4 linked regions of the Homo sapiens genome follow. The protein of the gene in region 2 purifies or fractionates together with the protein of the main gene of each other region. This does not show direct contact. Each region holds a gene or a part of one and is shown on either strand. Other genes may lie near its edges. The genes, in order: TCHP, GLUL, NME7 and ASPSCR1.

Region 1 (7,648 bases), on a different chromosome or scaffold from region 2:
GGTGGGGTGTGAAGCAAGAAGCTGGAGTGGTTGGTGTTGAAATGTCATACCTTCACAACGGTACCTGCTAATTAAATGATGGCATTGTGCGGCTTCCAGTACTGTCATGTTTCATCTAATGGAGAGCGGCTCCCATAGTGTCACCCCCTCTCCCTGTTCTTGTTTTCTTCTCCCATGCTAGGATACCTAAAATCACAAGTCCTGGAGCAGCTCCAACCTGCGGGTTCCTACCAGGGCTTTCCCTCTCAGCCCCCTGCACGCCGTAGTCATTGACCTGTCATTGAATATTTCATATTGCCAAATTCTTTGTATGTTCACATTTGCAGGCCTCTTTTTTTTGAGATGGAGTCTCACTCTGTTGCCCAGGTTGGAGTGCAGTGGCATGATTTCGGCTCACTGCAACCTCTACCTCCCAGGTTCAAGTGATTCTCTTGCTTCAGTCTCCTGAGTAGCTGGGACTACAGGCACGCACTACCACACCTGGCTAATTTTTGTATTTTTGGTGGAGATGGGGTTTCACCATGTTGCCCAGGCTGGTCTCGAACTCCTGACCTCAAGTGATCCATCCGCCTTGGCCTCCCAGAGTGCTGGCATTACAGGCGTGAGCCACTGTGCCCGGCCGCAGGCCTCTTTTAAGAGCTACACTTGCAAGCCACAAGCTCCCAGAAAAACACACTGAAGAGGGATTCACAGTCTCAGAGGTTTGTTGTAAATCCTGGCTTTTATAGTCTTTGCTGTGTGACCTCAAGAGAGTTGATTCACCTCTCTGAGCCTCAGCGCCCTCATCTGCAAAATGGGGGCAGGAACAAACTCCTCCCAGGTTGGAGGGAGGCTTAAATGAGATAATATATCTCAAAGCACCTGGCACATAGCAGGTGTTCAAGAAATGCTCGTTCCTTTTCTTCTTTTTGCTTTCTCTTAACACCATAGATTCCTTTTTCCTTTGGAGGAGAAGAAAGTACTCAAAATAGGGGATCCATTCACTTTTTCATTCTCAACACAAATATTGATTGAGGCCGGGCATGGTGGTTCATGCCTGTAATCCCAGCGCTTTGGGAGGTTGATGCCTGAGGTCAGGAGTTCAAGACCAGCCTGGGCAACATGGCAAAACCCCAACTCTACTGAAAAAAAATACAAAAATTAGCCGGACGTGGTGGCGGGCACCTGTAATCCCAGCTACTTAAGAGGCTGAGGCAAGAGAATTGCTTGAACCTGGGAGGCAGAGGCTGCAGTGAGCCAAGTTCGCACCACTGCACTCCATCAGCCTGGGTGATAGAGTGAGACTCTGTCTCAAATATATATATAGATAGATATAGATATATAGATAGATAGATAGAGTGCTTACCACATACAAGGCATGGCATGGGGAATGCAGCAAGGAACACGATGATCCCTGCTCTTGTGTTGCAGCAAGAGGGCTTAGGCACTGGGATCAGGCAGAACTGGTTTCAAATCATGGCTCAACCACCTATCAGCTGCGGCTCCTCAGGCAAGCCATGCCACCTTTTCGAGGCTTAGTTTAGGCAATTCTAACATGGGGGCAATAAGATATCTCATAGAATGCCCAAGAGGAGCAAAGGAAAAGGCACTTGTAAAGTTGCTTAATAGCGACAGCCAGCAGCTGTGTAATCAAGAGGTTCAGAGTTGAACTGTGGGGGCCGGTGAGGATGTCTGGCCAGCAAAAGAGAATGGAGGCTGTAATCTGGGGACTTCAGGCTTCCAGGATCAGGCCACTTAGGAATGGTTGCCCTCCGGCATGCTGGTCGAGCCCTAAGCCCTAAAGTTCTGCTAGTGGAGCTTATCTGGTCATTATACAGATGAGGAAACTGAGGCCCAGAGAGTGGAAAGGCCTTGCCCAAGAGGCACAAAATCAGGATCAGGTCTCCCTTACCTTGCCCCAACTCACATATTTCTTTTTCTTTTCTTTTCTTTCTTTCTTTCTTTTTTTTTTTTGAGACAGGGACTCCCTCTGTTGCCCAGGCTGGAGTTCAGCGGTCAGATCTCGGCTCACTGCAACCTCTGCCACCTGGGTTCAAGTGATTCTCATGCCTCAGCCTCCCGAGCTGGGATTACAAGTGCATGCCACCACACCTGGCTAATTTTTGTATTTTTAGTAGAGACAAGGTTTCGCCACGTTGGCCAGGCTGGTATCGAACTCCTGACCTCAAATGATCCACCTGCCTCAGCCTCCCAAAATACTAGGATTACAGGCGTGAGCCACCACGCCTGGTCCAATTCATGTGTTTATGAAGTTCCTGTCGACAGACATTTATGTGTTGGTCTCCTTTGTTGGGTGGGCATCTCTGCTAAGTGACTGCAGTGGGCTGCTGCCACCCCTCTGCACTGGGGACACAACATGAAAGAGTGGCCATGAATTTGCCCAAGGGGGTAGGGATTAATGGGAGGGAAACTTGAGGACTCTTATGCACGCAGTGGGACAGACCCTGATTAAACAGGTGCCAACTAAAGGGGGATGTGAAGGAAGGCTCAAGTTTGGGCTCACCTGGGATGCACTGGATGCTCTACTCCTGGGCATGCTCCATTTATTCTCACACGGGCAACCCTAGAAAGCTGCACTATTTTTTGTTTTGCTTTGTTTTTTGAGACAGAGTCTTGCTCTGTTGCCCAGGCTAGAGTGCAGTGGCATGATCTTGGCTCACTGCAACCCCCGTCTCCTCGGTTGAGGCGATTCTCCTGCCTCGGCCTCCCGAGTAGCTGGGACTACAGGTGCCTGCCACCACGCCCAGCTAATTTTTATATTTTTAGTAGAGACGGGGGTTTCACCATGTGGCCAGGCTGGTCTGAAGCTCCTGACCTCAAGAGATCCGCCAGCCTTGGCCTCCCAAAGTGCTGGGATTACAGGCATGAGCCACCAGGCCCGGCCTGAAAGTTGCTCTATTTTTACTCTCATTCCATGGACTAGGAAGCTGAGGCACAGACAGATGAAGTGACCTGCCCAAGACTACACCAGCATGGTATAGCTTGAAACCTGGGCGTTCTGACTGTAGAGACCATGTTTTGAGACAGGGTCTCACTCTGTCACTCAGGCTGGAGTGCAATGGTGTGATCACGGCTCACTGCAGCCTCCTTGTCCTGAGCTCAAGTGATCCTCCCACCTCAGCCTCCCAAGTTGCTAGGACTATAGGTGTGCACCACCACAGCCTGCTAATTTTATTTATTTATTTATGTATTCATTTATTTATTTAATTTGGAGGTGGAGTCTCACTTTGTCACCCAGGCTGGAGTGCAGCAGCGCAATCTTGGCTCACTGCAACCTCTGCCTCCCAGGTTCAAGCGATTCTCCTGCCTCAGCCTCCCGAGTAGCTGGGAGTATAAGCATCTGCCATCATGCCCGGCTAATTTTTGTATTTTTAGCAGAGACGGGGTTTCATCATGTTGGCCAGGCTGGTCTTCAACTCCTGACCTCAGGTAATCCACCCTCCTGGGCCTCCCAAAGTGCTGGGATTACAGGCGTAAGCCACTGAACCCAGCTGAGGCCATGATGCTGCATCCAGGAAAAACAGAGATGAATAAAGAATGGAGAAATGAAGGGAAGAAGAAATGAAAGAATGGGAAAATGAAAGAAAAGAGAACAAACAAGTATTTTTCTTCATTTTCTTTTTAATGGAATAGTTGGCATGTAATACTTGTAGCACACGAGTTATAAAACATACTAATAGAATGAACACTTTTGAACTCACCACCAATATAAGACTATAATAGAAAGTTATCGGCCGGGTGCAGTGGCTCACTCCTGTAATCCTAGCACTTTGGGAGCCTGAGGCAGGCGCATCACGAGGTCAGGAGATCGAGACCATCCTGACCAATATGGTGAAACCCCATCTCTACTAAAATACAAAAAATTAGCTGGGCGTGGTGGCGTGCGCCTGTAGTCTCAGCTACTCGGTAGGCTGAGGCAGGGTAATCGCTTGAACCCGTAAGGCGGAGGTTGCAGTGAATCGAGATCACGCCACTGCACTCCAGCCTGGCGACAGAGCAAGACTCTGTCTCAAAAAAATAAAAAAGTTACCAATAACTTCCATCTACTTATGCCAGCAGGCCTCTGCCCAAGTTGTACATTGAACACACCTGGGGAATTTTGGAAAACACTGATACTCTCAGATGGGATTTGGGGTTTGGTTTGGGCATCTGGATTTTTTAAAGGTATCTGGATTTTTTCTTCTTTTTTTTGAGACAGTGTCTGGCTCTGTCACCCAGGCTGGAGTGCAGTGGCACAGTCATGGCTCACGGCAGCCTCGATCTCCTGGGCTCAACTGATCCTCCCGCCTCAGTCTCCCGAGTAGCTGGGACCACAAGTCCCACCATGCCCGGTTAAGTTTAAAAAATTTTTTAGAGACAGGAGTCCCTCTGTGTTGCCCAGGCTGGTATCTGGTGATTCTCACGCGCAGCCAGGTTTGAGGACCACTGACTTACATTCTCTTCCCCCTGGTTTCCACCTTCACCTTCACGTGATGGTAACCACCATCCTGAAATACGTGTAGTGCATGGACGGATTCTTTGCCTCCATGCTTCCCTATTTCAAGGAGCAGCGACGTTTGCTATTTATCTCCCGCTGGCCACGACGGGGCACCAGAGAAAAACACAGGCTCCCTACGCGCTGAAGGAGGCTTGGCCCTTGCGACGCTCCGTCGTCGGGCTCGTTGCCGGTGCAAACAGGGAGGAAACAGCCGGCGTTGCTGTAGCGCGTCTGGGAATTACACCGGGGGACTGGCCGGCCCGCTTCGTGCCTGCGGGAAGTCGGGCCGGGGGACTCTTCGGAAACTCCGAGCCTCAGAGAAATGTGAGTCGGAGGGTTGGACTAGGCCGGATCCGGCGTTAGGGCGGGGGCCCGCAGGCGGCCCGCGCGGGCGGGAACCGGGGCGGCAGTCAGCGGGCGCGAGCTCAGGGCGCCTCCGGGGTCCTCACTGCGCTCCCCACGCGCTGTGACCCCATTTGTTGCACGTGCATGTTCAGGTCGAGAGAGGGATGCGACGTGTTCGGGGAGCAGCCCACCTTGTGGGTGGCCAATCCGGGACGGGAATCTTAAACTTTTAACTCTTGGTGCAAAGACTGATCCACTGGCGGCTTTACGGGAGCGGGAAAAAAGTATGTGAAGCTTGCCACGGTCTCGAGACCGAGGTCACACGTTAGCAGCCTGCCGGCTACATTTGGACCATAGACGCAGAGTGTTTGCCCCCAAAACTGGAGGACCTCCAGAATGAGATTCTTGGCGTGCACCAGGCCTTTTCGCTCATTCAGCCGGCGTTCCTACCCAGGCACTGCATCGACCCTACACTTGAGGACAGCTTTTGGGTCAGGGGAATTGGTGCCTGGAGTGAGACTGCTCTCTGCTTTCAAGGCTCCAGCTGTATCCCTACATTGCTCAGGCAATTCCTCTCTCTAGGTCTCAGCTTCTTCATCTGCAAGATGAAAGGTCTGTCCTCCATGGTAGCCCAACATACTTCCGAGTGTTATTATCAGTCCCCTCCCCGGGGACTGCCAGAGCCAGGGCAGGTTGGTCCCAACAGGCAGCCCCTTGCAGCAGAGAGAGCCTGGGCTCTGGTCTCAGACGGACATGAATTAGGAACCCAGCTTGTTTATCTCCTTTACTTCCTGGCTCTGTGATCCTGAGCAAATCACTTTGTAATGCTTAACGTTGTTTTTACTAACCTTGTTTTTTAATGCCTTACCTTGTTTTTACTAACCTTGCTTTTAGACTCTTTTTTTCCCCTTAATCACCTAGCCTTGTTTCCACATGAATTAGCTCTCCCTTAGTTGAGAAAGCCGGATGAACTCCATCTGGTTCCCTCATTTACAAGACATCAAGGACTCCTTACCCACCCCTTTCCTCAAGGAGTTAACTTGTGTAAGCAGAATCTCAACATATCAAAGAGTCCAATTAACTGATAAGGTACTGAAACAAGCAATGTACGAAGTTCCCAGGATTTTGCTCAAAAGATAACACCATAAAACCTTGAGTTGGTGTCGGGCAGAGCACCCATATCTAACATTTTATGAAAGATTTAGAGCCCCTGCACCTGGAACTGTTGTTTCTCTGTAACCATTTGTCTTTTAATTGTTTCTCTGTGACTCTTTGTCCTTTTAATTTTTGCATGTTTTTACTTATGTAGAATTGTTGCATCTGAGCTCCCCTCCCCTTCCTAAACCAAAGTATAAAGGAAAATCAAGCCCCTTCCTCGGGCCAAGAGAATTTATTAGCCGTCTCTTGGGCACTGGCTAAATAAAGGACTCTTAATTTCGTCTCAAACTGTGGCGTTTCTCTAACTCGCTCGGGTACAACAACTTTACCTCTTCAACGTAAGTTTCCTTACCTGCCAAATAGCGAGGTGATTGTAAGAATGAAAAAAAGTCATATGTATTGAGTGCTTGGCACATACATGTGTTCCTTACATTATTGTCTCTGTTTAAGCACAGCATAAATGCCCCCGATGTGCCTAGTCTAGCAATCTTAGGACAATCCCTGTGTCTGTCTGTTGTGTTCCTGGTGATGGCTGGCCCACAGCTGGGTGCACGCAGTCCAGAATTTTTTATGTTTTTGTTTTTTTGAGACAGAGTCTCACTGTCACCCAGGCTGAGTGCAGTGGCGCTATCATGGCTCGCTACAGCCGTGACCTCCTGGGCTCAAGCAATCCTCCTGCCTCAGCCTCCTGAGTAGCTGGGACTACAGGCGCACCACCACTCCTGGCTAATTTTTGATTTTTTATAGAGATGAGTCTCATGATGTGGCTGGTCTCCAACTCCCGGCCTCAAGTGATCCTCCTGCCTCAGCCACCCAAAGTGTTGGGATTACAGGCATGAGCCACTGTGTCTGGCTAAGGTTTATTTGTTTTGTTTTGTTGTGTTTTGAGATGGAGTCTTGCACTGTCGCCTAGGCTGGAGTGCAGTGGGACAATCTTGGTTCACTGCAACCTCCACCTCCTGGGTTCAAGTGACTCTCCTGCCTCAGCCTCCCAAGGAGCTGGGATTACAGACGCCCACCAGCACGCCTGGCTAATTTTTTGTATTTTTAGTGGAGACAGGGGTTTCACTATGTTGGCGCAGCTGGTCTCGAACTCCTGACCTCGTGATCTGCCCACCTTGGCCTCCCAAAGTGCTGGGATTACAGGCGTGAGCCACGGCAAATTTAAAAGGATGATTTGCAGCACTAGTGGCAGATCATTTTAAAAAATGCTGGTGCCTGGGCCCTACTAAGTTTTTTGATTGAATTAGTTTGGAGTGGGGCTCAGACACGGTTTTGTTTGTTTGTTTGTTTTAAAGTTCCACCAGTTGATTTCACTGTGCAGCCAAGGGGTGGTGACCACTCGTTAAAGGGATGAGGCCAAGCTGGTGAGGGTTCCTGGGATTTGCAGTGGCTCACTTTCCTCCCATTCCTGTTCTCAGATGGCGCTCCCGACGCTGCCGTCCTACTGGTGCAGCCAGCAGCGCCTGAATCAGCAGCTAGCACGACAGCGAGAGCAGGAGGCCCGGCTTCGGCAGCAGTGGGAGCAGAACAGCCGTTACTTCAGGATGTCTGACATCTGCAGCTCCAAACAGGCAGAATGGAGCTCTAAAACCTCCTACCAGCGGAGGTAATTGTGCGGTAACTGCCGATTGGATGGAAGTGGGGACCACTTGCTGGTCAGGGGAT
Region 2 (8,262 bases):
TAAAGGACAAAATGTATCTAAAAAAACCCGATTCACAAAACAATGAAACTGGAGGCAGATTATCAGATGTGAAAAATGATCTCCAAAGAGTCCTTCAAAGAGAATCTTTCCTATGGTGTTGTTTTTTTCTGCTAATCTAGTTATTCACAAAGAAAATATATATTGAGTGTCTGCTATACAGAAGTCACTGGGTAAGCATACCCAGGATTGAGAGGTAAATGGTTGCTCCCTGTCCTCTGCACCTCCCTCAGTGAGGACTGTAGGAATTTCAGTATTTTAGAGATGGTGGCCCCGGAACAGATCACCCACAGACCAAAGCGACTAAAGGAAAGGGAACAGAAAAAGAACAGCACCTTGAAAGCTCATTAAGCTCTAAAATACTAACCAAACATGACTTCATCAAGTTACTATGAGTTATCTAAGCCTCAGTTCCTCATCTTTAAGATAGAATGATGTGAAGATCTAATTCTAGAATTGTATGGCTTTAATTTTCTCAATAGGACATTTTCCCCAGGTTGTTAACTAAGATGAACTTGATTCTTCCCAACTTTCCACGTAGTTTCCTGCTAGAGACATGATTCAGGGTAGAGCTCAAACAGACCCAAACCTTCCATCATAACACGCAGTTGGGGAAATGAAGTGTTCCTTGTATTTGACTGATTTCAGCACGCATCCTACAAAACTCAAATCAGGCTACAGATATGGCTGAGACGTGAATTTCCAATTTCCTGTCTTGAACTGAAGAATATCAAACAATCAAAAACTGTAAAGAACAATTCCTCCATTCTTAGTGCTAGTTATTGAACTGAAGTATAATGTAAATGTAGTCTTTCCTTCTCTAATTGTATAAAGTGAAATTTGAAAGCTTGGCCAACTACAGCTTTTCCCTAAATTATGGTTTAAGAATAATGCTATCAACTTCCAGAGCTATTTCTTTTCTTCTTCATTTTTATTATTATTATTTTGATTTGGTTTAAGATTCTACTATGGTCCATTCTTTTGGAAAGAACTGATGTTGGTTTATTACATAATAATAATTTTTAAAAGAATATTTTACAATTCTGGGTTGGGTTTCCAGGGTGTTCCCCAACCCTGAGTCTCAATTGTATCTCTTTAACATGATTTAAAGGTCTCACTGAATGCCTATTGAAATCATTCATACACAGGGAAAACTCCATTTCCTAAACAGAAAAGGTTTGGTCAATGTGAGCCCTACCCTAAATTTTGTGTCTAATGTGTATAAGGCAACCACACAGGCCCTGGGAAGGCACTCCAGATCCCCAGGTAAAGGACTTCATACTTGCAGAGTGAGAATGGATCCTTTAAAAGACAGAGAAAGGGCCGGGCACAGTGGCTCACGCCTGTAATCGCAGCACTTTGGGAGGCCGAGGCAGGCGGATCACAAGGTCAGGAGTTCAAGACAAGTCTGGCCAATATGGTGAAACCTCGTCTCTACTAAAAATACCAAAAAATTAGCTGGGTGTGGTGGCACACGCCTGTAATCCCAGCTCCTTGGGAGGCTGAGGCAGGAGAATTGCTTGAACCCGGGAGGCAGAGGTTACAGTGAGTGGAGGTTGCAGTGAGCCGAGATTGCGCCACTGCATCCAGCCTGAGCAACAGAGTAAGACTCCGTCTCAAAAAAAAAAAAAAAAAAAAAAAAAAAAAAGAGAAAAGTTGTTTCCTAATAGAGATAAGATTTGGGAGTAGAGCAAAATCCTAATACAAAGCTTTTATTTCAGGCAGCAGAACAACATTGAAGAAATACTTTTAATCTCAGGCTATTTCTGCAGATTTGGAACAAAATCTTTCCCTGTAATTGCTCTCCCACTCCACCCACCCCTTGGACATGGCAATTCTACTCTAAGAGAGAAAAATATGACTTCAAAGCACATGCAATGGAACCCCTTGTCAGCACTGATATGGTGTGTACCAAGAAACAGAAAAGTTCATGGGTTCAAGCATTCTAATGCTCTTTTTATGGTGGGGGTGAAGAATGGGGGCGGGTGGCAATTTAGGGAAGAAGGGGAAGGAGAAGAAAGGGCAGCAGACACAGCAAAGTCAAACTGGATGAAACAGGCTGTTTTACTTTTAACTTCTCTAAAAGTACAGTCTGGGTTTCTGCGGGTGAACCAGTTAAGGGTTTTCTTCTGCTTTTACTTCTCGCCTATGCTCAAGCCTCCCTGGTCAGTTCTTGGACTCATCTGCGCCCTAATTTCATCATTTTAAGTAAATGTGGGGCTGGCCAAGGAGGACAAGGCCTCTTGTTCACTCCTGAAAGAGTCAGTGGTCATGTATTATGTTCCTAACCCTTACAAAGCGTGCCCCTGGTCACATGAATGGATCAAAGCAAATCCATTTCCATTCTTGGAAAAGCAGCTCAAAGCACATGTTCTCTTGATGGTGCTGCTGTCACTTCTGTGTGGTTAACAAATATCATTTATTGAACACTCACCGTGGACACTACTGGGGGATATGACAATGAATAAACTGCTCAATGAGGTCAAGACATCTAGGAAGGGAAGCAGGCACTCAAATGGCAGAAATACCATAAGCCTGCAGAACCGCACTCACGCCTTACCATTCCGTTCTCTGTTATGTTTGTCATCCCCACCTCAGGGGCTGGTGGTGTGTGCAGCAGAGGCTCTGGCTTATGGTTCGGTAGTTTGGTATCTGGAAATGATTAATAACATCTTTTAAAATAAAAATATCACTTTTCTCCTCCTTTGCTCCCCTTCCTCGACCATTTAAACTCAAACCTTTACAGAAAGAGATGAAGACAGCTCACTGTGTTACCAAGGTTAAGTCCAGTTTGATATAATGAATGGTAAAGCATTACACTGAGTCAGAAAAGTTGTATTCAAAAGTCGCTATGGGGAAAGAAAGAATCCAATCACCTCAGATTATAGAACTTGGCCTATGATAATTATAATTGCTGTTTTCTAAACATTTACGATGCACCAAGGACTACTCAATCTCTTCTGCATGTGCTATCACAATTAATCCTTTTATGAGGTAAAAATGATTATCCCTCTTTTATTATAGACAAAGAAACAGGCTTCATGTGGCTAAGTGATTTGGCCAACACAAAGCTGGTATGAAGGGAAAGCCCAGATTTGAACCTAGGTTTACCTGACTTGCAGCCGTGCCTTTAGCCACCACAATGTAATGCTTCAAGGGGCAGCACTGAAATTTAACAAGGAATTTGTAAGGCACCTTACCCAATCCAAAATGTCACCAGTCTGAAACATCCCAAAAAACCCTGTTTGAGATGAATGCTGCATCTGTCATGTAAAAGCACTACAGTGTTATACACTCTTAAAGGAAAGGGATGTTGACCAAAGAAGCCAAGTTATGTGTGTGTGGTTGCAGGCAACATTTCTTTTCCACATTTGCGGTACAAAACATAACCAGAACAAACTTCTTCCCTTCCTCTTCCAAAGGCACTGGAAGCATAAATTCTTGCTCTTTAAACTGAAAGAAGCAATAAAATCTGGACACCATCAGGTAGATTTCAGGCACTAAAAATAGAATGATCGAGTAATAGTACGGATAGCAGTATCTACCTACCTACCTACCTACCTACCTATGTTGTGTCTCTAGGTACATTTCAATATTGTGTTCACATACACATTTTCCCAACCATCACGGCAAGCTGAGAGGAGAGGTATGTATTCCCATTTTCCAGATTAACAAGAAGCCGCACTTGATAAAGCAAAATCAGGGAGAATTCGTTAAAGGAATTTCTTGACAATCCCTGGACTTCAAAGGGGGCAAGTGAACACCTCGATTTCCTTTCAGCTGCTCCGGGGGCAGTTTGCACACAGAATTTCAAATCTAGTGGGCGGCTCCACAGGTCATTTTCGATGACCACTTTATTTTGCAGATGAGGAAACTTGGGCCCTGAAAGACCTGCCTAGGGTCTGGCCAGCAGTATGAGACAGGTCTCCAGACTTAGTTTCTACCGCCCTCCAGAATCCTCTCTGTAAAATTAGAGAAACAGCACGTTGATTTCAAATGTGAAATGGCAGAGTTCTGTTTATTTCCCCAGACCCAAGAGAGCCGGAGCGGGCGGCTCTTCCAGGCCTTGGGAACCCCGGCCTGTCCCCAGGCCCGCGCGGCACCCGCCCTAGCCCAGGCCCGCCCAAAGTTCCCTCGGGTCCCGCGCCCCGCGCTCCCTCTCAAGCTAACCCCTGCCCGCAGGAAGCGGGGCTCGGAGGCTCCCTCGCAACAAAAGGCTAAATTCGGTTTCCCTGGTTCCGCATTTCCCCAGGGAGCTCTCCTCGTAAAACTATTCCCCGTGAAGGCGGCAGGGCAGAGGTCCAGGGCGGGCTTTGCTGGGAGCCTCGGGACCCCGGGTTGGGGGCCGTGGGGCGGCACCTGGCGAGCTGGCGGGTGGGCGGCGAGCCGAGGCTTCCCGGCCTGGCGGCAACTCGCCCCTCTGCCCTCAGCCCTCCCGGCTCCGCTCCCTTCCCCCACGCCGCCCTGCCCCTCCCCCACGCCCCTTTCTCTTTCTTTCTTTCTTTCCCAGTTCGCTTGCCCCCACCCCAGCGGCGCCCGCCGGGCTCCTCGCCCAATGGCCGCGGGGCCCGGGACCGCATCAGCTGATCGGCCCGGGCTCCTGGCCGCTGGGAGCCAATCAGGGCACCGGGGGCGGCCCCGGGCCGCGGATAAAGGGTGCGGGGCTGCTGGCGGCTCTGCAGAGTCGAGAGTGGGAGAAGAGCGGAGCGTGTGAGCAGTACTGCGGCCTCCTCTCCTCTCCTAACCTCGCTCTCGCGGCCTAGCTTTACCCGCCCGCCTGCTCGGCGACCAGGTAAGCCCCCGGACGGCCCGGTGTCACGCAAGCGAGGCGCGCCGCCCCTGCTACCCCGCGAGGCGCGCCGCCCAGCCTCTTTTTTCGGCTGCCTGCCCCTCCAGTCCCAGCCCTACGCTGCGGCCTCTCCGGCCCATGCCTGAGATCCGGCATGAGTGCTCCTCCCGCGTGCTTCCGCCGCTGGTGGCTTGGACCCGTCGGGGCTGGCGCTGGTGGGGCGCGCCCTTGGCCAGGCTCTGGGAAGGGCGGGGTGAGTTGTTTTGATCTTCTTTTCACTACTTGCGGCCGAAGCGCCGCCCCTGGAGGCCGTTGGGCCGGCCTGCGCCCTGGGGCTCGCAGTGGTTTGTTTGCGCTGTGGATGGAGTGGCGGTGCGGTCCCCTGTGGAGCGCAAACAAGGCGCTTGGTTGGCGCGGGCGCCTGGCTGCCTTCCTCGTGGTGGGGCCTTCGGAGCAATCGTCCTGGTTCTGGCGATGGTTGAGACGCCTCGATTGCGGCGTGTAACGGTGAGCGTTGTTTGGGCGGCCGGCTCCCGCCTCGGGGTCCCGGGGGCCTTCCAATGTGACCGAACAATGGAGAGCCCGGGCCTCGGCGCAGTCAGTGGAGAAGCCGGTCCGGGCGGAGGCAGCAGCAGCGCGCAGTCCCTACGGCCTGCGCCCCCACCCTCCCCCGGACCCCCCAACCCCTCGGCGGCAGGGTATGGCCACCTCCGTGAGGCCCTGAGATTCGGACGGGGGCCCGAGGGGCAGGGCGCCCACTTTAGGGACATTTCAGTGGGAAGGGGCTGCTCTCAAAGTGGATAATTATAACTCCCTCGGGGGCGGGAAGCGGGGATCCTCCCCCAGCCGCAAGTCCACGAAGAAAGCAACGAATGAAAATTATGAAGACAACGAGAAGTCAGACTCCTCCGGGTCGCGCTCCAGCTGCTTCGGCTTCGTCGCCTACTCTGTGAACTCCGGGGAGAGATCTCGAGTCAAGATTAAGACCTTAACCCACCAACCTGCCTGTTCGGACACCCCCCGGGCCGGCCGCTGTCTGTCCCCTTCTCCATCGCCCTCTCCCAGAAAGCTCCGGTGCTTGGACCAGCTAGAGTCTGAGAAAGAGGAGAGGCGCGAACGCCACTCCAAAAAGAGAAGGGTTAAAGAGGGCAACCCTAACGATACGCTTGACTTTCTGTGGCTGGGGTGAGTGAGGGGGCAGGGAGGACGACCCCGGAGTTGGTGGGAGCTGCAGAAACTGCTGAAAACTTCAGAATCCATTTCCCCCACGTAAACTTGGCACCGCAGCAGCAGCAGTTGATAGAGTGGCACTAGGCTGCTGGCATGCAACTCGGCTCACGGAAAAGAGCAAGAGATCCGAAACTGAGGCTTAGGACAAAGTGTGCATGATATTGGTGGTGTAACATGTTGGAGAGGACAGCCGAGAAATTGGGTTGTAGGTTTTTTTTTTTTGTTTTCCGACAGAGTCTCTATCTGTTACCCAGGTTGGAGTGCAGTGGTGCAATCTCCCGGCTCACTGCAACCTCTGCCTCTGGGGTTCAGGCGATTCTCCTGTGTCAGCCTCCCGAGTAGCTGGGATTACAGGCGTGCACAACCACGCCCGGCTAATTTTTGTATTTTTAGTAGAGACGGGAGTTTCATCGTGTTGGCCAGGCTGGTCTCGAACTTTGTACCTCAGGTGATCTGCCCGCTTCGGTGGGTTGTAGCTTTTAGCGGGAGCTAAAGGGTTCTGGGATGGAGGTGGGAAGTAGGATTTGGCCGGCTGAGTCTTCTAGAGGCAATATTGGGGTGTTGGTCTTCCCCAAGGGGAAGGGTGGTGAGGCTGAGGGAGAAGCAGTTATGTTTTCAGCTGGGCAAACATGGACGGTTGCCCGTAGAAACTTTGCCACTGTACTTCAGAACGTTGCCCTAGTCGTTGGAGGAGAACAATGTGTTCCCTTTCTAGCCACCCTGGTCCACGGAGGGAGGAGGGAGAGAGAGAATGTTTCCTCTTCGGCTGTTGTGGCTTGAGAGTTTCTCTTCTTTCGGAGGTTTTGTGGTAGTGGCTGGCAGTTATTAGTATGCCTCATGGCTTTTAAATTTCCAGATCTTTTTGATTTAGAAGTGGAAATTTCCTAATTACTTGACAAGTCTTGTAGAATTCCATAATGTTGTGATTCTTGCCCACTATCTTAAGTGAGACTTTGCATGAGACCTATGGAAATTATGGCAGCATTCCCCTTAGAATCTGGCTTGAATCAGCTTTTGTGTAGGAAACTGCTAGCCTTCTAAAAAAATATATTGTAACCTTGTTTCATCCTCAAATCTAAATGTGTAATGAGTTTTCTTTTGGTGGGGAGGGGCGGTGGGTTTGAGTTAAGACCACAGCTAGGATGAAAGACAAAGAGAAAAACAAACTGTGGAAGCCAAGCCTGTTCTGTGGCTGGATTTTACTTATATTGGAAGAAGTTCTATGTTTTGTAAATTTGTGTATTGGTTTTGATTTGTTTCCTCTGATAGTTTAGTATTTGGATAGTTTAGTGTTAACCTCAGCTACACTGAAGGAATAGACCTTAGTCCTCACAAGTATAAGTTCTAGCTTGGAAGCCTGGGTTCTGCAGTAGCTGTGGAACTTAAGCCTGTGAGCTCAGGGATGCAGAGGCATTGAGTTACTACCAAGGGCCTGATCTTTTCTTTAGCAGGCATCTGTGTTAATTGTTTCAAAAGGTGGTGATCAGTTTTACAGCCTATTATAAAGGAGATTTTTGCCTACTATAAAACTAATCCCCCTGAAAGAGTGAGTAAACATAACTTTTTGTGTGTTGACTTCCACAAGGGAAGGAGTTGGCACTTACACTCTGACTTTTGATTCAGTCGTCCTTCTTGAGCCATTTTTGCAGGGGATCAGTTTGGAGTGGGCGTTAACAATGTTATTCTTTTTTTCTTCTCCAGAACACCTTCCACCATGACCACCTCAGCAAGTTCCCACTTAAATAAAGGCATCAAGCAGGTGTACATGTCCCTGCCTCAGGGTGAGAAAGTCCAGGCCATGTATATCTGGATCGATGGTACTGGAGAAGGACTGCGCTGCAAGACCCGGACCCTGGACAGTGAGCCCAAGTGTGTGGAAGGTGAGACAGCAATGTGGAGTGGAGCACATGCTGGGTGGGATCTGCAGAGGGGTGGGCAGCAGCCTTTGACTCAGCCTCTGGATTAGGCCTCTTTCTTCTGTTTGTAAAGGTTTTCTAAGGCAGGGCTTTTCAGACTTTATTCAGTCAACATTAAGCTCCTACACTGCCTCAAAGCAGAGCGACGATGGAACCCTTTATTTCAATGGAATTGTGCACGTAGGCCAGTGTATTGAAGAAAAACTAAGTCTGGTTTATGGAGAGTTGGCATGGGGCTTAGAGGTTGCCGACCTGGACATCCCCACTTAGCTGGCTCTAAGGCACCCTCAGAAAACCACTGCTCTAACC
Region 3 (7,564 bases), about 13 Mb from region 2:
ATAGGTGTTTCCAAACTGTCTTCCTGTGCTGAGTCAGTTGTCTAGGTGAGAGTCATAGGACTAGTAGAGTCAGTTTCTTGGTATGAGGCATGTATCTGGGTGGCATCAGGAGGTTTGCCAGAATGCAGAAGCCTGGAAAATATCTCAAGACCAATCTTAGGTTTTACAATAGTGATGTTATCTAAAGGAGCAATTGGTGAAGTTACAAATCTTGTGACCTCTGGCTACATGACTTCTGAATAGTAAGAAATTATAGAAAAGCAAGGAACAGTAGCTGGTTATTGCTTACCTATGCCTATATTTTAGCAGATTTTAGGTCCCTCCCATAGTCCTAACCTTGCGGCCTTCTATTAGTCTTACAAGGCTGTTTTAGTCCCTAGAGGGGGTCAGTTTTGGAAGGGACTATTACCATCCTTGCTTCAAAGTTAAACTATAAATTTCTCCCATAGTTAGCTTGCCTATGCCCAGGTATGAGCAAGGGCAGTTAGCTTTGTGAGGTTAGAAGCAATATGGAGTCAGTTAGGTTAGATTTCTCTCACTGTTATAATTTTTGCAAAGGTGGATTCACTTCCAGACCCAGTGTAGGTGTCTTTTCTGTGATGCCTTCCTTCCCTACTCAAAGAGGGTTGAGTCGAGTCAGGTGCGGTGGCATATGTGTGTAGTCCCAGCTATTGAAGAGGCTGAGGTCAGAGGATTGCTTGAGGCCAAGAGTTCAAGGCCAGCCTGAGCAACATAGCGAGACCTTGTCTCTAAAAAAGTATAAATAAATACAAATTTAAAATCTATGCAGATATTCAGAGCTTTCCCCTCCACACTGTGAAATCAAGAAAAAAAGAAAAAGAGGTTGATTGTTCATTCTTTTTGTCACCATTTTATGTAGTATACATCTCTCCTATTGTACTTGCCTCATTCGGTTGAAATTATTTGTTTATAGATCTGTCACTCTTACTAAAATGTGAACTGTTGGAGGAATTCATGCTTATGTTGTTCACAGTATTGCCTAGATCATATTAGGCACTCAAATGTTTGCGGAATGAATACAAAATAAGAAAGAATGCGCTAAGTGGTCTGAGAGAATACAAAGTAATAGGGGGCAAATTGTACAATTGAGTCCCTGCTTCTCAGTCAGAGTCAGAAAAGTTGTCATGAAGAAAATGGAATAGAATTTCAATAGTTAGAATTCTATGACCTGTGCAATGGCATAGGGAGGTAGAAAGTGACATTTGCTCAATACTGTTTTTGGTTTTTGCCTGTCTTACATTATGTTATCAAACTTCCCAGGAATGCTAAGGGCAATGAATGAACTCCTGTTCCCACTCCTCCTGCCGGGATTGCAGGCTGGGGCTCTTTCAAATTAGGTGGTCAATGAAGGCCTCTCTGTGGAAAGAACTTTTATATTGAGACCTGCATAATATAATACAAAGTGCAGTGATCTGGAGGAGTCCAGGCCACGCTAACAACAAGATCAAATACCCTGAGGCAGAAAAGAGATTGGTATATTTTAGGAACTTATGGTTCAATGTAATAAAATAATAGAAACTGGGTGGTGGGATGGTGCAGGGGTGGCTGCAGTAGGGAAAATATGGTGCAAAATACCATGAAATGTGGTTAGGGAGGTAGGCAGAGGCCAGACCACACGTATACGTACAGCAGTGTTTCTCAAACTGTACCTGATGACTCATTACTCAAATTTGTGGTATGTAGCCAGCATTAAAAAGATGACATAAAATAGCAACTTAACATATTCACTACATGTTGTAAGGGTAACGTTCATGAACTTTTGTTTAATTGTATATGTATTGGATGTGTACTGGATTCTGATGTAAAATATATTTCTTACTGTGAGTCCTGATCCACAAAGTTCAAGACACAGGGTACTTTGAATAATATATACTTTATTTGTTTTATCTTATTATTTTATTTTTATTTATTTATTTTTTTTGAGACAGGATATTGCCCTGTCACCCAGCAGGAATGTAGTGGTGAGATCATGGCTCACTGCAGCCTCAACCTCCCAAGTTCAAGTGATCCTCCAGCCTCAGCCTTCCGAGCAGCTAGGATAATAGGTGTGTGCCATGATGCCCAGCTAATTTTTTTTTTTTTTCAGAGACAGGGTCTCACTATGCTGCCCAGCCTGGTCTTGGACCCCTGGGCTCAAGTGATCCTCCCACCTTGGCCTCTCAAAGTGTTGGGATTATGTTTATGTTAGCCACCACGTTCAGCTAATATATAGTTTAAAAGGCAAAATAGTTGAAATCTCAAGGCCTGCAGATATTCTTATTCCTCTTTTGATCTAGTGAAAATGTTCTTGTTGTATGGCAGATACAGCTTTGAATTAACGAAAGCCTAAAATTGGCTAGAGTAAAATTTTCAAGTTTCTTTGTGCATCCAGATCACTCTCCTCCATATTTGCCATCAATCATTTATGAGAAAGAACAGGCCTAAGAAACAGATGTCCCTTCTCTGTGTTCAGTCTAGCCACTGTTGTATGTATTGCAGCAAAGGATTATGGCCTCTCAATAAGCAGCTGAAGATGGAGGTTGTTTGCTCTGTTGGTGAGGCTTCCTGACCACTGCAGTTTATCTAATCAGCTTCTGTCTTCATCTAGTTTGTTATAGTTGAGGCTTCCAAATTCTGGAATCACCTTTATATTGTGAAGCAGAGATAGGGAACCATAGTTTAGCATGTTTCTCATACACCTCATTTAAGATGAAGCGTATGCTGGACTCATCAATTTCTTTTACATATTATAAAGAGGACAGAGAAGGTAATTCTAAGATATATTTGACAAAGATATTAATATTATGTATCTTCTAAAATATAGCATTTATTAGAATATCATTACTCCAGATGAACTGTTAGTGTAATAAAGGACTTTAAAGATTATTAGCTATGTTCCATAAGAACTAATCTAAACCTTTGAAGTAAAATGTCTCAAAGTTGTTTGTTTGTTTATGTATTTATTTATTTTTGAGACACAGTCTCACTCTATCACCCTGGCTGGAGTGCAGTGGTGTGATCTCGGGTCACTGCAACCTCTGCCTCCTGGGTTCAAGCGATTCTCCTGCCTCCACCTTGTGAGTAACTTGGATTACAGGCATGTGCCACCATGCCTGGCTAATTTTTGTGTTTTTAGTGGAGACAGGGTTTCACCATGTTGGCCAGGCTGGTCTCGAGCTCCTGACCTCAAGTGATCCACTTGCCTCGGCTTCCCCAAGTGCTGGGATTACAGGCATGAGTCAAAGTTGTTTTTAACAGAGTTTTCAAAGACAGTTTCATAATTACTGAAGAACAAAATTTTATTCCATGAAATGAAATGCTTTTCAGTTTCCAACTTTATGACGTTTCTCCTAATAGCTTTTCTGGTTTTGTTTTTAGCACCTGCCTTTTTTTTTTTTTAGACAGAGTTTTGTTCTGTCGACCCGGCTGTGGAGTGCAGTGGCGCGATTTCCACTCACTGCAACCTCTGCCTCCTGGGTTCAAGCAATTCTTGTGCCCCAGCCTCCCGAGTAGCTGGGACTACTGGCGCATGCCACCACGCCTGGCTAACTTTTGTATTTTTAGTAGAGACGGGGTTTCGCCATTTTGGCCAGGCTAGTCTCAAACTCCTGATCTCAGGTCATCCGCCTGCCTCGGCCTTCCAAACTGCTGGGATTATAGGCATGAAGCTTGGCACCCAGACAGCATCTGCTTTTTAGTCATCCAGAATTCCTTTTGTTACTTGAATTGCTGATTTGGAAGAATTGCAGTTCCAAAGATCCACAGGATTTTATTTACAAAAAGTGAATCAGAAAGCACAGGGCATAAATTGCAGATATGAAACTCTTAAAAGTTTATTTTCCTATATATTGTATTACAAATGCAGTTTAGAGCCTGTTATATTCTTGTTTAGTAGGAAACAGTGGTATTTGGAGAACGGAATAGTAAGTGGTTAATATAATGCCATAATTTTTTTCATGTAGCTTTTTATTTATTTTTGCTTTCCTTTTTCTGCCTTTTTATTCCCAATTCTTTCTCATTCACCAGTTATTCTTCTATTCGAGAAAGTATTTATTGAGTACTTTCCATATACTGGTAACTGGTGGGTATACATTGATTAATAAGATAGCACACAGTGGCCCCTAACTCATGGAATTTATGGAGAAAAACAGATATTGGAAAATAAATTACAAGTATAAGTTGGATTACAAAAGAAAAATGACAAGGTGAGGTGGAAGTTAGTAATAAAATAGAGTGATCTGAACTAGCCTGGGGTGGTGAGGGAAAGTCTCTTTGATGATAAAACTCTTTAATTGTTTTTTTCCTTAGTTTGAGAGAAAAACAGTTTACATGAATAAATAAACGAATGATGACCTCATATGATGATAAGTACTATGAGGAAAATTAAACTAAGTAATGCAATATTGGTTGGTTCCAAGAGCAAGTAGCCTTGAGTAGGACAATCAGGGACGGTCCTCATGAGGATGTGACTTTTAAGCTGAGATGTCAATGATAGAAAGCAGCTTGCCAGGTGAAACCTAGGAGAAGAGCATTCCAGGCAGAGTCAATAGTGAGCACAGAGGTGCATTAGAGGAACAGGAGGGAGATAGTGTGGCTGGGGCCTAGGGAATGAGAGGACAGCTGGAGGAGAAGAGATCTGAGAGGCAGGAAGGAGCCAGGAATACTGAGACTTATGGAACTTGGGAGGGATTTTGGATTTTATTCTAAATGCAGTAGTATTATACATCTTATATATTTTACCTATTCCATCAAAATATTTTATTTTCCTTGGATTTGCCTTAAACTTTTGCCATATTAATTTGGTCTCTTGGTGCTTATTTTTATCTTATCTGTAAAATTTATGATCTTATAAGCTTTGGGAAATATTTTTCTGAGCTTCTTTTGTCTTTGAACTTCAGAGACTCCTAATTTCATCCCTTATAGTTGCCATTTCATAATTTATTTTCCCATTTCTGGACTTATTTTTTGTTTCTATAATATCTACTCTAAGGTGTGGCGAGCAGAGCTACATATTCCAGATGGGTATGCATTATAGTTTCAACATGGGAGTTATGTTTGCTGCTGTGATCTTCACCTAGTACCTTTCTTGATGCTGCTATAGCATATGATTGAAGTATCTTACTTTCCAGAAGTATCTCCAGCATTCCCAATGAACTTTGTATTCACATTTTTTTCAAAAACTGCCTAAACTTCTTCACTTCCAAAGTTGTCAATATTTAAAACTTTCTGTTAATTAGATGTGAGAAACTGTAGCTATTAAAATGTACTGCTTAATTCACATTTATTTTCTGATACTGGACACTTTGCCTTAATAAGTTGCTGTTGTTCTCTCTCCTGACTCATCTTATGTGCTGTGCCTTCTTCATATTTCTATACTCTTTAAAATGTATCTTCATATGCACACATAATGGCTCTAGAGCTCTCTGATAGATGTAAATTCAACTTTTATCCTTTGTTTTCCATAGTTTCAATATTTACATGATACATATATATGCTATATATGTTTTATATATGTTTATAAAGATATTTAACTTATTCTGTTGTAGAAATATAGGAAAATTACTTAGTCATTTTTAGAAATGAGAAAATATAAAAGTAAAAGTAATAAAATTACATTTATCTATAATAACACTGCCTGTATACAATCGCTATTAATATTTTTGTGTAATATCCTGGTCACATATATACTCATACATATATACACACACACACAGAGATACATATCCTTTAAAATATGATTCTATTATATTCATTGTTTAGAAATCTGTTTTATCCCACTTAATATATCTTTTGCATTTTTCCAGATCAGTTTTAAGAACTACAGCCAGCCCTGGGTAGCCATGGGTTCTGCATCCAGATTCAACCAATTGAGGATTGAAAATATTTGAAAAAAAAAAATAACAATACAATGATAAAAAATACAAATAAAAACAAAGCACTATAACAAGTATTTACATAGCATTTGCATTGTATTACGTGTTGTAAGTAATTTAGAGATGAATTAAAATATACTGGAGGATATGCATAGGTTATATGCAAATGCTATATCATTGTATGTAAGGGACTTGAGCGTCTAAGGATTCTGGTATCTGTAGGAGTCCTGGAACCAATCCCCTGCAAATACTGAGGGACAGCTCTACGTTTTATTCTTTCATTTACTCTGATTTAACCAATCCATTTATTAATTTGTTCTGTTAACACAATACTAACATATTTTTGCGAACACATTTTTATAGACATCCATAATTATTTCCTTACAATAAATTAAAAAGGAAATAACTAGGTGCGAGAGGTCATGTGCATTTTTAGGCTTTCAATATACATTGCCAGACTACTCCCAAAATAGTTTTGCCAGTGAATACTCTGCTAGCAGTATACCATGGTGCCTGTTTCTTCTAAACTCTAAACTGGTATTTCTATACATTACATACATATGTCTAACAATAGATTTGAACTTTTAATAAAACTGTCACCTGCTTTGCTCAGAATATTGAGAGAAATATAAATTACTGTATGTTCTATAGATGAAAGGCACTGTTAATACTTACCTACAATATTTCTTTGTAATTATTGTTTTACATCTATTATAAATTGTTAAAATTCAAGGTTTATTGTCTGACTGTAGTGAAGAATATTAAGTTGGCCTTTTTTTAACTATTATTTGTAGACAGATTTTCCAGTCCTCTCTTGTGTACTTATTTTCAAGATGTAGCTTGTTGAAGTACAAACAAACTGATGTAGAGCTAGAAATCTAAAATTTCAGTCTTTATTCCAGTCCTGGCTTAAGCACTTATGAGCTGTGTGTTATGTAATCTTTTTGGATAGTTATTTTCTCATCCATAAAATCAAAATAATACTTTCTGTTTAGATTACCTTAAAGCATTTTTTGTGAAGATCAAATAAGTTAATATGAAAGTAATTTATAAACTGTAATATACATATGAAATGTGTTATTTTCATATTAACCAGATTGCTGCCTAATGAGAAGATAGTTGAGGAAAATGGAAGAGATTAAAATATCAACCTTCAAAAATAAATATTTGAGGTTAATGGTGTTATGCAATTTTGTGGCTATTGAAAAATTTACTTTTATATATTAAATTCCCTCTTCCTAAATTTCTCTTATAGATTCATTTTCCTAATGGAAATAAGAAAAAGCTGGTAAAAGGGAGGGAAATGGCAGAGATTGGTCTTGAGACCAGTTTCAATAATGGTCATATACTTTTGTGGATAGGGGCAGCTAAACATGTGTGATATGTATTTAGCAGGTATTAGGTGTGAGATCCCTGAATATCTACTCAATTTAAATGGATTAGCTGGGAACATTTACTTTTATTGCTGGTCATGTGAGATTTTATTATTCAGTAATTTGACTGTGAAAGTACAATGAGACCGTTCAGACCCAGTCTGTTTCTTGCCACTTAGACTCAGAAATTCGGCTCTGGAAAAACTGAAAATCCCTTCATCTAGTGGCAAGTACAGTTTTATCATTTATGTTAAACCATATTGCCTTTTAGGTACCTTATTGGATTTTACTGCATGCACTGAGATCTCTAAAAGGTGA
Region 4 (7,564 bases), on a different chromosome or scaffold from region 2:
TGCGGCTGCTCACAGAAGCCCAGGGGACACTGCCCAGAGGCTGCTGTGGGCACAGGAGCCCTGGCCAGCCCCATCTGCATCCCACCTGCTGCCGGGCGAGAGGGCTCCCTCAGAGGCCACCGATGCAGAGAGGCACCTGGTTCTCATCATAGCCCCCACAGGCCAGGACCCCCAACCAGCACTGCCCCACGGGACGCACAGAAAGGGGCGGGCAGGACTCGGGAACACCAGGAGAGGGAAGTAGGCTTGGCAGCCAGGCCTGGGGCACCTGGGCTCCCTGTCTGCGCCTCTGTGCAGGGAGCACTGAGCCAGGCAGCCTACCCGGCCTGTCCCCACGTGCTTGTGCCCAGCCTTGACTCGGGAGGGATCGCCACTGCTCGGACGAGGGGATGGTGGAGAGGAGGGTCGGCAGACTGGGTGGCATGGAGGCTGACCAGTGCTTGGAGAGGCTCGGCCTCTGGATGGACCCCAAAAAAGAAGCCTCCCAGAGTCCACGTCGCCTCCATCTCCTACCACTGGCAAGCGTGTTCTCTGCTCTGGTCCCAGGCACCGTTTCAGCGAGGGACCCAGGGTGAATGGAGCCACCCGGTCACCAAGCTGGGGCTGGAAAGGGAAAGTGGGTCACACCGTCCCCCCAGCCAGAGCAGGGCCCGGGAAGGGCCTTTGAGGGAGGCACAGGCTGAGGGGCCTCTCCCCACCAGCACTGTCCCAGGATGTCTCAGGCTGCCCCTGCCTGGCTCCCTCGGCTGACAGGGAGAAGTGGGGGTGCCCGCCCTGCCCTGACACAGCCTGAGGGCCTGGAGCCGGCCCCTCCCTAGCTGCCGCCCAGGACACTGGGGCCCCAAATCCAGCCGCCTCTCTGCTGCCAACCCCTTGCCCCACTCAGTGTTGCCAGGAAGAGCTTCCGAAAGGAGGCCCACGTCAACCCCCACGGGGCAGCAACTCTGTAGGGGCTGCATGCACACGTGGCCCAGCGCCTGGCCGCCCCCTCCAACGAGAACAGCACCACCCTCCGGGGAACGAAGCCAAGAGAGGAGCCCTTGCAGCTCAAGACGCCCGGGAGGGAGGCGGCACCACAGCGCCTGGGAGGGAGGCGGCACCACCGTGCCCGGGAGGAAGGCGGCACCACAGTGCCTCGGCAGGGAGATGGCACCACAGAGCCCGGGAGGGAGGCAGCATCATGGTGTCTGGGAGGGAGGTGGCACCACGGTGCCCGGGAGAGAGAAGGCACCACGGTGCCTGGGCAGGGAGAGACGGGGCATCCACCCACAGAGCGGGAGTGGGGGCTGCAGGAGCCATCCTGCCTTCTGCAAGACCATTTGTCAACGAGGAACATTTCAGAGGGTCCAGGTGGGGTAGGGCCTGGTGGGTGGAAGGAAGGGGGCCTGTTGGTCCCAGAGAGGCCCCGGCAGTGGGCGACACGGCAGTGCAGGACGGGGCTGTCCTGGGTGGAAAGGAAGGACGACAGAACTGGCTAGGGGCGGGCGCCCAGCAGGCACTCAGGCCAGAAGTGCCAGTCACGCCCTGCCAGGTGAGTGGCTTGGGGAGTGGGGAACCAGGCAGCAAGGGTGGCCTGTGTCCTGGCAGACGGTCCCCAGAGGCAGCCTGAGAGCTCCAACAAACGGAGGGTGTTAGGAGCCAGGCTTGCCCTGCCAAAGCCAATGGAAGGAAGCCCAAACAGCAGAGCCTTTGAAGAGATAAGTGAGGTGACCGTGACATCAAAGGTGGGCCTAGCCCAGGGTGACCTTCCTCATGACCTGAGGACGCGGACCGCACACAGAAGTGACTGTGTGAGGACACCAGGGCAGGGCCAGCCCTGATGCCCAGGGCCAGGACGCAGGTTTCAGGCAGGGGCGGGGGGCTTTGTTCCCCACAGTGGTGCCCCCACACTGCTCACAATTCCCTGTCCTCACTCCTGGCCGCCTCCTCCCAGCCCTCCCAGAAAACCTGCACTCTCCTGGGCCAGGGCCACAGAGGGCTGCCGGGCTACCGGAGCCCCCACACCCACGCACGCTGTCCCTCTCGGAAGCCGGGGGCCGGCCCCTGGACATCCCCCAGGCAGCAGGCAGCCGGAGTGGGGCTCTGCCAGAGACGTGAAAGCTGGTGCTTCCGCGCCCGCCGCCTGCTTGCCTGCCAGGGAGGCAGGCTTCCTTCCCTCAGCCCCGCCAGCTCTCTGACGGCAGGCAGGCAGGCAGGCACGTCACCGGGGACACCACCCCGAGAGGCCCCGAGGCTAGAGCCGAGCTGATGGAGGGCAGGAGACGGTGGCTGGTAGGGAAGCCAAGCGTCCCCAGAAACAGGGCAGCAGCACCCCAGTGCTCTCAGGGGCCTCCCAGCGGGAGGGTGGGCTGCAGGCCTGGGCACTGGTCCTCCTCCATCCCAAGGCATCTTCCAAATTCAATGTTTATCAACTGGCTGGCCAGCAAGGGAGGGGATGGAGACGGAGGAAGGAGGCCCGGAGTCCGCCCGGCAGCTCGGGGGCTGAGAGGGGACTGTCTCACCCCTCCCCTGCCTCCGCTGCAGGGAATCCCGCTCAGTCCTGCTCCTGATCACCCCTGGCAGCTGCCAGCCTTCTTGCCCCAGCTCAGTAAGCGGCTGCAGCCCCAGGCAGTGAGCAAGCTTCTCACCTCCAACCCAGGCCTCTGTAGAGGCCTGTGGCCACTTAAAAAAAAACCCGCCTCTGTGGCTAATTAAAATATCTGAAGAGGCTTTGAAGAGGAAACCATTAGGCCAGAGGGCTTCGGAAGGCCCCAGGCAGCTCTCCCACAGGCCAAGGACAGGACATTCATTGCTTCTGGCTCTGGAGGGCGGCCCAGCAGGGCTGGGAACCCGGCACCCTCACCCTGGCCCCACCCTCAGGAGCCCTCAGGGAGGTGGCAGGGACCCACAGAAGCAGCGGACAGCTATGGGCACCAGGGCGTTCCTAGCAGGGACCGGGGGGCCAGCGGGAGAGGCCGGGCAGGGGGAAGGGGCAGCTGAAGCCCAAGGCGGCCGCCTCCAGCTGAGGGCCTGGTCCCTCTGGGGCTCCCTGAGCCCTGCTCCGAGGCCTGCCGGGCCCTTCCTCACCCAGACCCCTGGGCAGGGACTGCTGCCGCCTTGGCCCCAGCACAGCAGCCCAGGGGGGCCGAGACCTCCAAGCGGCCTCAGTTCAGGCAGGCCGCCTAGCAGGTCCTTTCCCACCCGGGGCCAGGCAGGAAGCAGAGGAGGCCGGAAAGCCGTGTCAGAAGCAACTTCAGAGGCGCACGGCCCCCTCGGAACCCACCGGCTCTCAAAGGCTTTATTATCCTGCCCCAGCGCCTGCCAGGCCCCTCCTTCCTGCCCGAGGCCTCACGCTCTCGTCCTGCCCTCCCTGGAGGGCCCCGCCCCGCAGCACCCCAGGGAGGCCCTCAGGTACCTGAAAGAGGGTCTGCGTGTGGTCGTCCAGGACTGTTTTTGGAGGGGTGATGACTGAGGAGAGAAGGCACCTACGTGTTAGGAAGCACCGTGGACCTCGCCCATCCATGCGCCCGAAGGAAGACAGGCCTGCAGATGGGGGTGACGCCTCAAGTGGGGCAGAAGAGCCCCTCACGAGCACGCCCTGTGCCCACACTCCTGCTGCAGAAACTCCAGCTGAGGGCTCGGAAGGGCCGGTGGGGGGCAGGCCCACCTGCAGGGGACACCACCCGTGCAGCCCGGCTCCCCTTGCAGTGGGCAGCCTAACCCTTTGCCACCTAGACACCCTCCAAGGGAGGCCAGCCACTCCCTGTCCACCCACCCTTCCCACAGCCCTCGGGCAGGAGTGGCCTGAGCCCCAGGGGTGGGGACCAGGCTGGGGTGCAGCAGGGCTCCAGAGGGGAGCAGGGCGCTGAGAGAGAAGGCAGGAAGCCTGGCTCCCACCGCCTGGCTCGGGGAGAAGGGCCCTCCTAGGTCTCCACACAGACACCATGGGCTGCAGGAGGCACCTGGGCGGGAGGCCACAGATGCTGCTCCTGTGGAGAAGCTGCCACGAGCCCCAGCTGGGACGGGCGGTGTGCCCACAGCACCAAGGCCCCGAGCACTGGAGGCAGGAGTGGGCTCAGGAGAAAAAACGTACACAGGTAAAATGACAGCTCGGGGTTCCCCAGGTGGCTCCTCACGAAGTCTCGCAAGTCCCCCACTGCAGAGGAGAAAAAGAACATACAGACAGCTCTTCCACCACGCCAGCCCCGGGCTGCCCCAGCACCTGGGCCACTGCTCCCACCCTCCTGGGCCTTTCCCCGAGGGGTGGGAATTCAGCCCTGTTCCTCCCACAGCACTCCAGGTGCTCGGCGTGGCTGGGCCACCGTGCGGGCCACACTTGGGACCCCCGCCCTGCTGGAGAGCACTCCCACTGCCACCCGCTGCCCCCCAGCCCCACCCCCGCCCCAGCCTAAGCGCTTCCCTTTCCCTGGGGGAGGCCCCTGTGACCTTGGGCTGCTGCCGCCCGGCCGTCTGGGTACAGGTCACAAGCCCCTGAATGTCACAGCACCACTGCCCTCCTCCCGGGGTAGGGTGCCTTCCTCTGGGTGCCCCTCTGCCCCACCCATGCCCAGTAGGTGGGCGACGTGAGCACTCAGGACCACGGGCTCCCTGAGCTGGGGCCGGGCACCTGGAGCAAGCGCCCAGCCTGCCTGACACTCTGCGAACTGGGATGCCTCTGCACCCCCAAGGGGACATCAGCACCCGCACCCACCCAGTGCCCTGGAGCCCGCAGGCCAGGTGGCTGCAGTCCTGTGGCCTGGAAGGAAGGAGCCGGGAGAGGCCCCATGGGCCCCTGCCCCCCATCCCCGGACACCCCACAGCGCTGCCCACCTGTCTCGCTGGGGCGGAAGAAGCCCTGTAGGACGTAGCGGTCGGGGAACAGGACCCTCAGAGCCACCTAGGCCAGACAAGTGGAAGGGTTGGAGGGACGGCCGGAGCTGCACCAGGGACCAGGGCGTGGCCTCCCCACTCGGCCCATGCTGGGCCATGGACACCAGGGCTGAGGCAGGCAGAAGCAGCCACCCCCAATCAGGGCCTGGGCTTTGACTCCCCCGTGGCAGGCTGGGCATGGAGACAGCCAAGTGCCGTGTGTGTGCACAGCGGCCTGCGTTCTAAAACCACACTGACCTGGGTTCAAATGTGCTGGTTTTTTTTTTTTTTTTTTTTTTTTGAGATGGAGTCTCACTCTGTCGCCCAGGCTGGAGTGCAGTGGCATGATCTCGGCTCACTGTAAGCTCCACCTCCCGGGTTCACGCCTTTCTCCTGCCTCAGCCTCCCGAGCAGCTGGGACTACAGGCGTGCGCCACCTCTCCTGACTAATTTTTTGTATTTTTAGTAGAGATGGGGTTTCACCGTGTCAGCCAGGATGGTCTCGATCTCCTGACCTCATGATCCGCCCACCTTGGCCTCCCAAAGTGCTGGGATTACAGGCGTGAGCCACCACGCCCGGCTCAAATGTGCTGTTTAAAGTTTCATTCAGCCAGGTGTGGTGGCTCAAGCCTGTAATCCCAGAACTTTGGGAGGCCGAGGCGGGCAGATCACCTGAGGTCAGGAGTTCGAGACCAGCCGGGCCAACATGGTAAAACTCCATCTCTAGTAAAAAAAAAAAAAACAACAAAAATTAGCCGAGCTAGTGGTAGCGGGTACCTGAAATCCCAGCTACTTGGGAGGCTGAGGCAGGAGAACCACTTGAACCCGGGAGGCGGAGCTTGCAGTGAGCTGAGATGGCACCACTGACTCCAGCCTGGGCGACAGAGAGAGACTCCGTCTCAAAAAAAAAAAAAGGTTTCATTCTAAATCATGAGCAGGGGAGGATCAACTGGCCACTAAGGGCATGCGCGCCACCACGGGGGGGCCCTGCTCAGAGCTGTGCCTCAGTCGCCCCCACGTCCCATCCACAGACCTCACAGGGGGCCCCCTCAGAGCTGTACCTCAGTCGCCCCCACGTCCCATCCACAGACCTCACAGGGGGCCCGCTCAGAGCTGTGCCTCAGTCGCCACCACGTCCTGTCCACAGACCTCACAGGGGGCCCGCTCAGAGCTGTGCCTCAGTCGCCCCATCCCGTCCACAGACCTCACGGGGGGCCCCCTCAGAGCTGTGCCTCAGTCGCCCCCACATCCTGTCTGCAGACCTTTGGGTAGCGCTCCAGCTTCTCCTTTATCTGCGCCTCCCTGAAGGCCTTGGTCACCAAGGGGGCTTCTTCCAGGCGCTTCCTGTGGTGAGGAGGGGAAGGAACAGGGCTTCTGGTCAGAATGGGGGCCCTGGCAACAGGCCCCGGGCTCCTCACCTGCACCCTCCAGGGTGGGAGTGGGCTGCTCTCCCCACACAAGGCAGGAAGGTCTGGACGCCCCTCCCTGGGCCCCAACCCTCTGAGGTCCTGTTAAGGGCAGCCTGTCAGGGACCTGGGCCGGGAGCCAGTGCTGGCACTGGGGACAGCGGGCAGCACAAGCACCCGATGGGGCAAACCCTGGCGCGAAGATGCCGGGAGGCACTGAGGGGGCACCCACCGCTCACTCTTGAGCTGGGCCAAGCGTCTTCTCACGTCGTCCACCGTCAGCTCAAAGAACTCATCAGGCAGCTCCGCTGGCCAGGCCTGCAGCCGCTCCTCCAGGTCGGGGTGGCACACCACCGGCTCCCGGTCCACGGGCTCCCGGTCCACGGGCTGGAGGCAGAGGGCGCGGCTGACGGCGGGTGTCACGGGCTGGGCCCTCCGCACCCCGGGCTGTCAGTGCCCCAGCCGAGGTGGTCACACAGACTTGGGAGCTGGGCCCACTCCCTCCCTGGCCCCGGCCAGCGCAGGGCCAAGGCCAGGTCCTGGGGGCAGGGCTGGGCACAGCAGCTGGGGGACCCCACCCCACTCAGAGCCTGTCCAGGGCTGGAGACCCCCCTCTCCCAGTCAGTGCACCAGACCTGATGCTGAGCCCCTGCTCCCCAGCAGGGCACATGGCCCCTGGAGTCTGGCTCAGGCCACGTCAGGGTCTCCATGGGGGGGAGGGGTGGCGACAGCCGCCAAATTAGAGCGTCGGCAAAAACCCCAGTCCAGCTGCCCCCGCTGCCCTCTTGGCCACAGCTCCATGGCCAGGCTGAATCCATGCACGCCTGCCCCCAGGGAACAAGCCGGCCCCTCCCTCTGCCCACCCTGGGATGCGGGAGGGACAGCGTCACCCCTAATTGGCATCAACAGCAATGAAATTGACAAAGCCGGGCCGTGCAGCTCGCGGAGCCCTGGGCAGTGATTTCAATGCATTCAGCACAGTGCTGGGGTACGTGGGACACCTCAGCACTGCGCCGACCCACACTCGGCCCCGTCCCCCCTCACACAGAACAGCCGAGAGCTGTCGGGAGTTGGGGTGGCCTGGAGCCGGCTCTGGGCTCCCACTCCTACCTCACACTCTCGACACCTGGGGATGGCTTGGCAGTCCCTGCGAACAACCCTCCTGGTCCCGTCCCGTCTACCCTGCAGTCTCCCACCCAGCCACGGGCTGCTGCCTCCTGCCCTACACAGCATTCCAGCACCCCCACCATGCCCACACTGGGTGACAGCCAGGGTGCGCCTGCCAGAGGTACGCCTGTCCCAGGTGTCTC

What was found.
Region 1: the proteins of GLUL (region 2) and TCHP purify together in Homo sapiens (affinity purification with mass spectrometry; 4 studies listed by BioGRID and IntAct, with this or other methods). This does not show direct contact.
Region 3: the proteins of GLUL (region 2) and NME7 purify together in Homo sapiens (affinity purification with mass spectrometry; 4 studies listed by BioGRID and IntAct, with this or other methods). This does not show direct contact.
Region 4: the proteins of GLUL (region 2) and ASPSCR1 purify together in Homo sapiens (affinity purification with mass spectrometry; 4 studies listed by BioGRID and IntAct, with this or other methods). This does not show direct contact.

What each region holds. Positions count from the first base shown.
Region 1 is NC_000012.12:109,895,626-109,903,273, forward strand, and holds the start of TCHP (trichoplein keratin filament-binding protein), read left to right. Parts: upstream 1-4,648; 5' UTR 4,649-4,801; intron 4,802-4,951; exon of another isoform or gene 4,952-5,434; intron 5,435-7,401; coding exon 7,402-7,589; intron 7,590-7,648. UniProt on the Homo sapiens protein: Tumor suppressor which has the ability to inhibit cell growth and be pro-apoptotic during cell stress. Inhibits cell growth in bladder and prostate cancer cells by a down-regulation of HSPB1 by inhibiting its phosphorylation.
Region 2 is NC_000001.11:182,388,227-182,396,488, reverse strand, and holds the start of GLUL (glutamine synthetase), read left to right. Parts: upstream 1-4,698; 5' UTR 4,699-4,810; intron 4,811-5,147; exon of another isoform or gene 5,148-5,314; intron 5,315-5,636; exon of another isoform or gene 5,637-5,992; intron 5,993-7,738; 5' UTR 7,739-7,751; coding exon 7,752-7,917; intron 7,918-8,262. UniProt on the Homo sapiens protein: Glutamine synthetase that catalyzes the ATP-dependent conversion of glutamate and ammonia to glutamine.
Region 3 is NC_000001.11:169,357,616-169,365,179, reverse strand, and holds part of NME7 (nucleoside diphosphate kinase homolog 7), read left to right. Parts: intron 1-7,564. UniProt on the Homo sapiens protein: Possesses an intrinsic kinase activity. Displays 3'-5' exonuclease activity with a preference for single-stranded DNA. Does not seem to have nucleoside diphosphate kinase activity.
Region 4 is NC_000017.11:82,008,114-82,015,677, reverse strand, and holds part of ASPSCR1 (tether containing UBX domain for GLUT4), read right to left. Parts: intron 6,642-7,564; coding exon 6,487-6,641; intron 6,193-6,486; coding exon 6,111-6,192; intron 4,877-6,110; coding exon 4,810-4,876; intron 4,136-4,809; coding exon 4,073-4,135; intron 3,523-4,072; coding exon of another isoform or gene 3,448-3,522; coding exon 3,395-3,447; intron 604-3,394; coding exon of another isoform or gene 322-603; intron 1-321. UniProt on the Homo sapiens protein: Tethering protein that sequesters GLUT4-containing vesicles in the cytoplasm in the absence of insulin. Modulates the amount of GLUT4 that is available at the cell surface. Enhances VCP methylation catalyzed by VCPKMT.